3 linked regions of the Homo sapiens genome follow. The protein of the gene in region 1 purifies or fractionates together with the protein of each later gene. This does not show direct contact. Each region holds a gene or a part of one and is shown on either strand. Other genes may lie near its edges.

Region 1 (3,660 bases):
CCAGTAGATTAATATATGTTCTACGGTGTGGGTGTGTCTTTTTCCCAGTCATCTTATTTTTCCCATACTATTGAACAGGGGAAGTTGCTGATAACGTATGCCAATATTTAGTTTCTCTCAGTAAAGCCTACTTAAAAATATTCTAACACCAGAACCCCAGGCTCATTAAATGACGTAAGTCTTTGTAGAAAACATATTTAGCATGTATCTAATATCCTCAAAGTGCTATCAGAAAAAAAAAATTTTCTTGCTAAGTATACAATTAATATTCCTCTTCCTTTGCAGTGCCATGAAATACATCAATAAGGGGTTTCTTAAGTGATTGTCTGGGTGTCAGCTTTTCCTGCTTCTTCAAATCAGGAAAAAAACCTGACTTTTTATTGCAAACAGCTCTCTAGCCCTTCATCAAACTGTGCCTGCTTTCAAGTTAGTCTTTAAGGACAGTGTTGAAAACAATTACATACTAGATTCTGGTATTTAGAGAAAGAAGATGCCTGAGTGAGTTGTCTTTGATTATGTTGTGTTTTATTTACTATTTAAATTTCTACATTAACTGACCAGACTAGTGGTTATAAACTTTAACTTATTTTAATATAATAGAATTGAATAATTGTATGTATTAATTTTTTATTAATAGAGAATAGAAAGGTCAGTATTAGAGAAATTACTGATGGGTATGTTTTCTTTGATGTTACAAAAAAGCATGGAAACTTATATTTGAATTTTATTGAACTAAATTGGATGGCAGTGCTAGAGATGATATTTATGATGAGGGCACATATCTTATTGATTTCTGTTATGTAATTGAAGATGACAACATGCACACGTGGTCTTTCTTTGGAAGAGGGTAGGAACTCACAAAGTATCTGTGCTTTCAAGTGTTGTATTTCCTCTTTTGATTCTGGAAATGTCTAGGTCATTCTGAGCTTTTAATGGAATGTGCAATTTCTTACATAAGATTTCCCTAAACGGCTGGCATAGAAAGAAATAAATAATAGGGTCCAAGCATACATTTGCAGCAGATAGTAGCAGAGTGAATTCTTTCATATACCGCAAGATTTCTTTTGACTGGCAGCTGTAATGAGCTTCGGTCTGACTCTTTGTGTAGGGGATTCTGGCAATATGGTAAGGTACAAAACAGACAAAAAACACAAACACGATGCTGAATATGTTGCGGCTAGATTTCTTTTTGACCGAAGTGGAATTCCGACTTGACTTAAGGTGGGACTTAAAGATTTTCTTTGTGATAGCAGTATAGAAAACGATTAACAAAAGAAACACAATCCAGAAGATGGCCACGAAGATGTAGTTTGATGCTTTGTGCCACTTCCGTCCCAGTTCACTTTTCAGTTCTATACATTTTATTTGTGTAACCTCCCTAACACTCTGGTTGGTGAGAATAATATTTGGAACAGCAAGGAGGAGCATGAGCATCCATACTATCACTGACAGAAGTTTGCTGTAACTCACTGACTGGATGAAAGAAGTCCAAAGAGGCTTTACAATTTTATAATATCTGTCAAAGCTGATGAGCCCAAAGAACACAATGCTGACGTACATGTTGACGTAGAAGAGCACGGCAGAGACCCTGCACACAAACACGTTCAGCTGCCAGGGACCAAGGCCTGAGTCACCAAGGATCTTGAAAGGAAAAGTCAGGCTCATCACAAAGTCAGCAATAACAATGTTCTTGAGATAGATGATGAAACTCTTAGAGCTGGGCACGTAAAAGAATATCCATCCTGACACTCCATTGAGTAGGATTCCTGCAATGAAGACCATACAGTACAGCACAGGAATGATCTGCTGAGTGATCAGGAGGTTCTGAGAGCAGGATTCATCTGGAGGCTGTGTGGAGGTTGAATTGATCATCTTGTAACTTCTGAAGGCAGAGGCCTGAAAAGAGGTGTGAACTGGTCACTCATAGGGCACTTATGGCCTCCAAGACATTTGCTGAGTAATAAGGCAAAGGGCAATGAATATAGTCAAACCTACCAAATTTTTGAAGCCACCTTTTTACTCTGTGTAAGTTAGACACTCATCCCTCCCTCCCTCTGTTCTTCCTTTTCTTTCTTTTGGTCTTCCTTTTCTCCTTTCCCTCCCTCTTTCCCCCTTTACCCACCAACCCCCACTCCTTTCTTCCTTCTCCCCTCTCCCCCTCCCTTTTCCCTCCTCTTCCTTCTTCCTTTTTTTTGGGCAATGAAAAGGGAAGAATGGAGCAGACAGGTGGCAGTAAAGAGAAACTGGAGCAGCAGGGCAGTCTCTGAGAACTTCTAGGTAATACGGAGACCAGCATGCCCCTAAAATAATAATGGTTCCCTATAAAACTCCAGAGTTCTAGGAAATACTCATTTAGGTATAATCTTAAAAGGTAGTAACTGTAAAAGCAGAATTAATGTTTTATTTTATTCAGAATCCCATGTGTAATGTATTTTTTTAAAACCTATGTTGGAAATGTGATTGTTTTTTCCTAAAAGAGAAATTTTTATGGATTCATAAAAATCATTATAAATGTTTACATATTAAGAGCTATTCAGACGGACCTTACTTTTAGAAAAGTGTATTCTACATATATGTTGGACATGAAGACAGTGTCTAACAAACATATACATTCAAATGTTAACCGGTATTTTTGGTATGGGATTATGGGTACCTTTTCAATATTGAGCTTTTTTTTTTTCCCATTGAAAAACTGATTTGCATTATTTTAATAAATTAGAATACAAATACAAACAAATGATAAAAAGTACTTTAAGCATTCTGAGAAATGCTTCCCAAAGTACATTCTACATCTGTACTATTCAGTATGGTAGCCACTAGCCATGTGTGGGTATTGAGCACTTGAAATATGGCCAGTCCAGATTGAGATGTTCTGTTAAGTATAAAATGCACACTAGACTTTGCAGACTTGGAATGAAAAAATGTAAAATATCTCAGTATTTTTAATACTGATCACATGTTGAAGTAATATTCTACAAATGCTCTATTAAATAAAATATATTATTACTCTTAAATTTAACTTAATTTTACTTTTTAAGACTCTGGCTACTAGGAAATTTTAAATTACATATGTGTTTCACATTATGGTTTTATTGCACAGTGCTGTGCTAGGTGTTATCCAGAACTTCTATTGTTTAGGAATCCTGTATATTCTTCACTGATGTCGGAAGTGTTGATTTAGGGCAGAGGGAAGACTAGAATTAAATTCAAAAGGTTATTTGATATATCGGAACAGATGTTTACTGCCCATCTTATATGTGAACAGTACCAATTATCCTGCTTAAAACCCTTTAGTAGTCTGTCCTTGCCCTCAGGAGAATGCCCTAAGTCTGTAATGTTGAAGTCCTTTCTTGTTCTGCCTCCTGCTTCCTCCACCCCCAGCACTGAGTTCCTGCTGTCCTGGGCCCATCTGCCTCCTTTTAGGTTCTGTGATTTCTCTCAGCCTGGACCTTTGCACAGACTTTCATTTGTGTGGAAAACTGTTTCCATACCTTCTTGGCTGGCTAACTTCTCTTTATCCTCAAGGCCTCAGCTTAGCTGTCACTTTCCTTAGGAAACCTCAACTTTCCTAGCCTGGTTTGGGGTGGGTTGAGTGTGTGCTTATCATCCTGTGTCTTTCTCCTATCAACACTCCTCTCTCCAGCTGTTTGTCTCTTCCAC
Region 2 (3,660 bases), on another chromosome or scaffold:
GCACGTCACCAGCACATGGCCATCACCAGGCTAAAACTAGACAAAGACCACAAAAGATCCTTGAATGGAAGGCCAAACAAATCTTCCTAAGTAGGGAAGGAAGGGCAAATATAAAAAAGAAGCAATTGAGAAGATGCAGGAATAAGGTATCTTATATACAACTTTCATTAAAAATTGCTAAAATGGGCCAGGCGCAGTGGCTTACGCCTGTAATCTCTACACTCTGGGAAGCCAAGGCGAGCAGAACCCTTGCAGTCAGGAGTTAAAGACCAGCCTGGCCAACATCGTGAAACCCCGTCTCTACTAAAAGTACAAAAACTAGCCGGGTGTGGTGGCACATGCCTGTAACCCCAGCTACTCAGGAGGCTGAGGCAGGAGAATTGCTTGAACCCAGGAGGTGGAGGCTGCAATGAGATTTCACCACTGCACTCCACACTCCAGCCTAGGCAACAGAGAAAGACTCCATCTCAAAAAAAAAAAAATCTGCTAAAATTTTAAATTAAAGTCCCAGCTACTTGGGAGGCTGAGAGGGGAGGATCCCTTGAACCCAGGAGGTGGAGGCTGCAATGAGATTTCACCACTGCACTCCACACTCCAGCCTAGGCAACAGAGAAAGACTCCATCTCAAAAAAAAAAAAATCTGCTAAAATGAAGCTGGGTGCAGTGACACAAGCCTGTAGTCCCAGCTACTTGGGAGGCTGAGAGGGGAGGATCCCTTGAACCCAGGAGGTCGAGGCTGCAGTGAGCTATGATCACACCATTGCACTCCAGCCTGGGTGATCTGACAGGACACCTTGTATCTAAAAAAAGAAGACTCGGCTGGTCTGAAGGTAGTAGTGAATTAGCTCAACTGATTGTTCACAGTCAGTTACAGATCAAACTTCTACTCTTTCCCCTCTTCTCACTACTGCACTTGACTACTCTTAAAAAAATTTCTTTTAGTCCAGGTGTGGTGGCTCACGCCTGTAAGCCCAGCACTTTGGGAGGCTAAGGTGGGTGGATCACTTGAGGTCAGGAGTTTGAGACCAGCCTGGCCAACATGGCAAAGCCCCGTCTCTACTAAAAATACAAAATTAGCCAGGCATGGTGGCGGGCGCCTGTAATCCCAGCTATTCAGGAGGCTGAGGCAGGAGAATCGCTTGAACCCAGGAGGTGGAGATTGCAGTGAGCTGAGATCACACCACTGCATTACAGCGTGGGTGACAGAGAGAGACTCTGTCTAAATAAACAAACAAACAAACAAACAAAATTTGTTTAAAATTCTAAAGTGAAAAAAAGTATAATCCGATTATCTTACAAAACCAAACAAATAAACAAGCCCCAAAGTTGTTTTCATAGAGGGATGTTATGTATACTAAAGGGCACTGCAAGACTCTTAGACTTCAGGTACTGCTGCTGTGCCCAGAGGCGGGAACCCTGGTTGGTTGTCTAACGTGGTAATTTGTTATGACCTGACAGCTGTGTGTCCCTAAAAGACCTAAGTGCTTGGGGAAACTGAAGAGGTGCATTGGTCTTTCCCTCATCTCCCGCATGCGTGAAAACATAACCCAGCTAATGAACATTACTTCTCAACCTGAGAATTCGGAGTCTTTGACTCATGGAGACCAGGCACAGTCCAGGCCACTCTCCTGCATGCCCAGCTCCCTAGCCTTGTGTGGCTCCCTCATTACACTGGCCACATCATTGTTAGCTTTGTTTGTGTCTCCTTGGCTCGATGGAAAGATTCCCCAACGGTGTGGATAGTATTGTTCAGTTTGCTACTGTAGTTCCAGGTCTTGCCTGGTATATAGTTGGCACGCAGTAAATACTTGTTGAAAGAACAAATACATGAGTGAATGTACAGTTGGATGAACATGATTAAAAGAATAAGGATAAACATGATTAAAAGAATTAGGAGAAACAAGGAAAAAAACTTTCCTTAGGAAGCTTCCATTCTATCTATTACCAAATAAAAAAGAAGGGTGTGTTTACATAGCTACACGTTATGAAACCGGGTGGATAAATACCCAAGATGCTTACCAAGGAGGGTGCATGAAACAACCCACAGGGTTCTTACGATTCCAAATTATGCAACTGCATCTATGGCAAGTAATTTCACATAAACCCTTTGTTTCAGTTTTTCTTATTCTAAATTGGGCACATAGGTTTTGTGCCCAGGGCACACTGGATTTTGAAATTTCAAACAAGGAACACATAAAGGGTCATTTCATGGTATCAATACTGTGCCTGGCACATATTAGCTGCTCAGTGAAATTAGAGTGAATACATGGATATGCAAATAATAGCTCAAACAAGCCTAGCATAACTCTGAGAGCAAAAAGCTGATTTGTTCCAAGTAGTGCAGCTCTTTAGAGCCAGTGGGGCCCCATGGGTATAAACTGGAATTTTTACTATGCTGCTCCTGTGCTTACCGTTTGTTAACTTGCTCCACAGCAATGTTGAGGCGATGTGCAATGTCTTCCACTGTTTCACTGTTGGCTGAAATGATCCCCACACTCTTGGCAATAGCTTTGGCTGTGATGGGATGATCACCAGTAACCATAATAACCTAGAGCAAAGACAACGAGAAGGCCCACGGGTAATGAAGAACTCGGTTGGCCAAAGTGGGGATGGTTCAGTAATACCTACTCTGTAGTGCCCTGGGAGAACGTGGTTGGTGATTACAGTGGCAGCTCTGGATCTACGAGACAACTGTCTTTGGAGGAAACACTAATCCCATTGGGTCTACCCTTGCTCCTAAGCTTCATACGCTTCCTCCTCTGACATGAAAGGAAGCCCTTCCCCTTTGATGCCACTTTATTTGTGAAAGGGCTGGTGAGTGTCTACTTGGGGGTAGCCCCATGTTACTTCAACAGTCTTAATATTAACCTAGTAATGATGAACATGGATTATGGGGGCTGAGCCTCAAGACTGAGTAATAAAGCCTTTTTTCTTTCTTTTTTTCTTTTCTTTTCTTTCTTTCTTTTTTTTTTTTTTTTTTTGAGACAGAGTTTCACTCTTGTTGCCCAAGCTGGAGTGCAATGGTGTGATCTCGGCTCACTGCAACCTCTGCCTCCTGGATTCAAGAGATTCTCCTGCCTCAGCCTCCCGAGTAGCTGGGATTACAGGTGTGTGCCACCACATCTGGCTAATTTTTTTGTATTTTTAGTAGAAACGGGGTTTCACCATGTTGGCCATGGCTGGTCTGGAACTCCTGACCTCAGATGATCCGCCTGCCTCAGCTTCCCAAAGTGCTGGGATTTCAGGCATGAGCCACTGCGCCCAGCCAATAAAGCCTTTTAGTATCTACCATGGACTAGGGCGAGATATGGTCACTTCAAGGCACTAGGAGATTCTTCTCATTGCATTTACTGTTTATGTGGTTCATTCCACATAGACACAATCATTTTCTTTTTGTGGGACAGTTTCAGTAACCTTAGCACAGTGAAACTAGAAATAAAATAGGAATTATGATATTTACTTGAAGACACCTAAATACTGACCATCTGCTATGAAAACCATTATTAGAAAGGAACACGACATAAAGAAAGAACTTCTTGAGTCAGGAAAATAACTCCCACCTTGATCCCTGCACTCCGGCATTTGGTGACTGCATCTGGCACGGTGGACCGAGGGGGATCGATCATTGACAAGAGTCCCACAAAACAGAGGTTGGAGGTC
Region 3 (2,390 bases), on another chromosome or scaffold:
CAAAATAGTGTAAAACTGTAAATATGAATCATTGATACTGAAGTTTTTAAAATGGGAGGATCTTATACTAAAAAATCCCCATAAGCTAAACCAAGAATCTTTCCTTCAGTTTTATTCCCAACTCATACATACTAAATAGGTCTTCGTATTTACTCTTTCAAGCAGCTAGTCCTCTACCTTTTTCTCTGCTGAGAAATCTTGGAGGAATCCTTAGAGGCTAACATGAAGACTACTAAGAAAATATAGAAAGAAATAACACAGCGTCTTACCTAGAATAGCAGCAAATCTTTTAAAACTCAATACCTCGATGTTGGGGATGTTGAATATTATCTAAAAACTATTTATAGGCCAGGCATGGTGGCTCACGCCTGTGATCCCAGCACTTTGGGAGGCCAAGGTGGGAGGATCACAAGGTCAGGAGATCGAGACCATCCTGGCTAACATGGTGAAACCCCGTCTCTACTAAAAAATACAAAAAATTAGCCAGGCATGGTGATGGGCACCTGTGGTCCCAGCTACTTGGGAGGCTGAGGCAGGAGAGTGGTGTGAACCCGGGAGGGAGCTTGCAGTGAGCAAAGATCACACCACTGCACTCCAGCCTGGGTGACAGAGCGAGACTGTCTCAAAAACAAACAAAAAAACCACAAAAACTATTTATGAAAATATTTATTAAAAATACTAGATAATATTCAACGATGTAAAACCAGTTGGAATGATCCATTTAAGAGATGAAGAGCAACTATGTTTTATTAGTATTTATGTGGCAACATATTTTAAATTAAGAAACGAGGTCAACAGCTTCTTTCAGAAGTTTGTGGTAATATTCTCTGCTTCATAGATCCTAGAGGTCAGTTGGGTTCCAAATTGGGCAGCACCTTACTCCTTTAGCTACATATATTTTCATTCGTGGACCTCTAACAGACAAATAATATAACTTGAGAGAATTTCAGAGTACTACTTTTTAGCCTCAAAGACGTTCTTCCAACTATCCACTATTGATACATTTAAATAATTTATTAAAAAATTTACAAACACTTCAAATAAAATTATGAAGTTCTTCAGAAGATATTCCTAAAATATAGGCATGTTTTCCTTTAAATATCTGGGATTCTATCTACAGTGCCTCTGTTATATTCATTCAAATTATTCTTATAATCTAAAACAATGAAGCTTCTCAACTGGTGGAATGCTGCCAGAGGATTTCAACAGAGTTTGAAGGCAACATAACCAAAAGGCATAGTTTAAATTGGCTTAGGAAATGAATGGGCTCCTTATCAGAGCAGCTGAAGGCTGTATACAATTAACAGCATCTGTCAACTTTCATAGGGCCCCATATAGAACAAGCAGGCCCTACAGCCTGGCGGCAACCTTCAGCTTCTGGCACCTTCGGATCCACATGACCTGAAAACAGAAAGACGGCTTCAAGCCATCACTAGAAGGCCTCTGAATCATTTTAGTGATATTGCTAATTAATGTTAATTATTTGAACAATTCTGTTAACCTTAGCATCAGGCTTTAAATTAACCAGCTACCATTCAAAATATAAAATCATTTGTAGAGATAAGTTTATATTTATAATAACTGATTTTACAGTCTCTTACATGTTATTTTTATTTTTAAAGACTATGAAAATTATCTACCTACCTGCCTTTTTATATGATGAACTCTCAAATCAGCTAAAATATTTTTGTATGAAGAGTACTAAATTCATTATATGGCAATTTTTAATTGTTTTTGTATATAATACATTTCTCTCATGAGCATGTACAAAACAAAGCAAATCCAGAGTTTCATTAAATAAATTTATTTGTTAAAATAATTTAACTCCAAATACAACTGTTGAATTTGCATTGAGTTATAACTACAATTCATGTTTTAATTGAAATGTCAAGGTTTAACAACTGACATTGTTACAAAACAATAAACTTGTTCAATTTTAAATGGTCAGTTGTATTAGAGCGCAACAATTAACTGTGAACTATATCTCTGGGAAACCTCAAATCAATAATGATAAGTCTGTTTCCAAAACCCACTGCAGTCATTCTTGAAACCCTGATCAAGATTTAATAGATGAACAATGACATGTTAAATAAAAAAAAAAAGACCTCCATAGTCCTTAATGTTTGATTGGCTAAGGGACAATTAAAGCTTACCCAGTGCTAACACAAGACTGCTGATAAGAACAAAAAAATTAAAAACACACACATAAACAAAAAACAGCAACAAACAAAACAAAGCACTTTCATATTCATACATACACTGACAACATTAACATTCATACTGGAAAACCCTTGAAAAGAAATACCAGACAGCCTTAGGCAACATTTCTTTATATAGAAAAGCAAATATCAGTAGTATTACCACAGAAAGGTGATGGCAACTGTAGCAAT

The links.
Region 2: the proteins of P2RY14 (region 1) and ATP12A purify together in Homo sapiens (affinity purification with mass spectrometry; 3 studies listed by BioGRID and IntAct, with this or other methods). This does not show direct contact.
Region 3: the proteins of P2RY14 (region 1) and RAP2A purify together in Homo sapiens (affinity purification with mass spectrometry, with the first as the bait; one large-scale study listed by BioGRID). This does not show direct contact.

What each region holds. Positions count from the first base shown.
Region 1 is NC_000003.12:151,212,445-151,216,104, forward strand, and holds part of P2RY14 (P2Y purinoceptor 14), read right to left. Parts: intron 1,897-3,660; 5' UTR 1,873-1,896; coding exon 856-1,872; 3' UTR 1-855. UniProt on the Homo sapiens protein: Receptor for UDP-glucose and other UDP-sugar coupled to G-proteins. Not activated by ATP, ADP, UTP or ATP.
Region 2 is NC_000013.11:24,700,823-24,704,482, reverse strand, and holds part of ATP12A (potassium-transporting ATPase alpha chain 2), read right to left. Parts: coding exon 3,561-3,660; intron 2,549-3,560; coding exon 2,412-2,548; intron 1-2,411. UniProt on the Homo sapiens protein: The catalytic subunit of a H(+)/K(+) ATPase and/or Na(+)/K(+) ATPase pump which transports K(+) ions in exchange for Na(+) and/or H(+) ions across the apical membrane of epithelial cells.
Region 3 is NC_000013.11:97,467,390-97,469,779, reverse strand, and holds the end of RAP2A (ras-related protein Rap-2a), read right to left. Parts: 3' UTR 652-2,390; downstream 1-651. UniProt on the Homo sapiens protein: Small GTP-binding protein which cycles between a GDP-bound inactive and a GTP-bound active form. In its active form interacts with and regulates several effectors including MAP4K4, MINK1 and TNIK.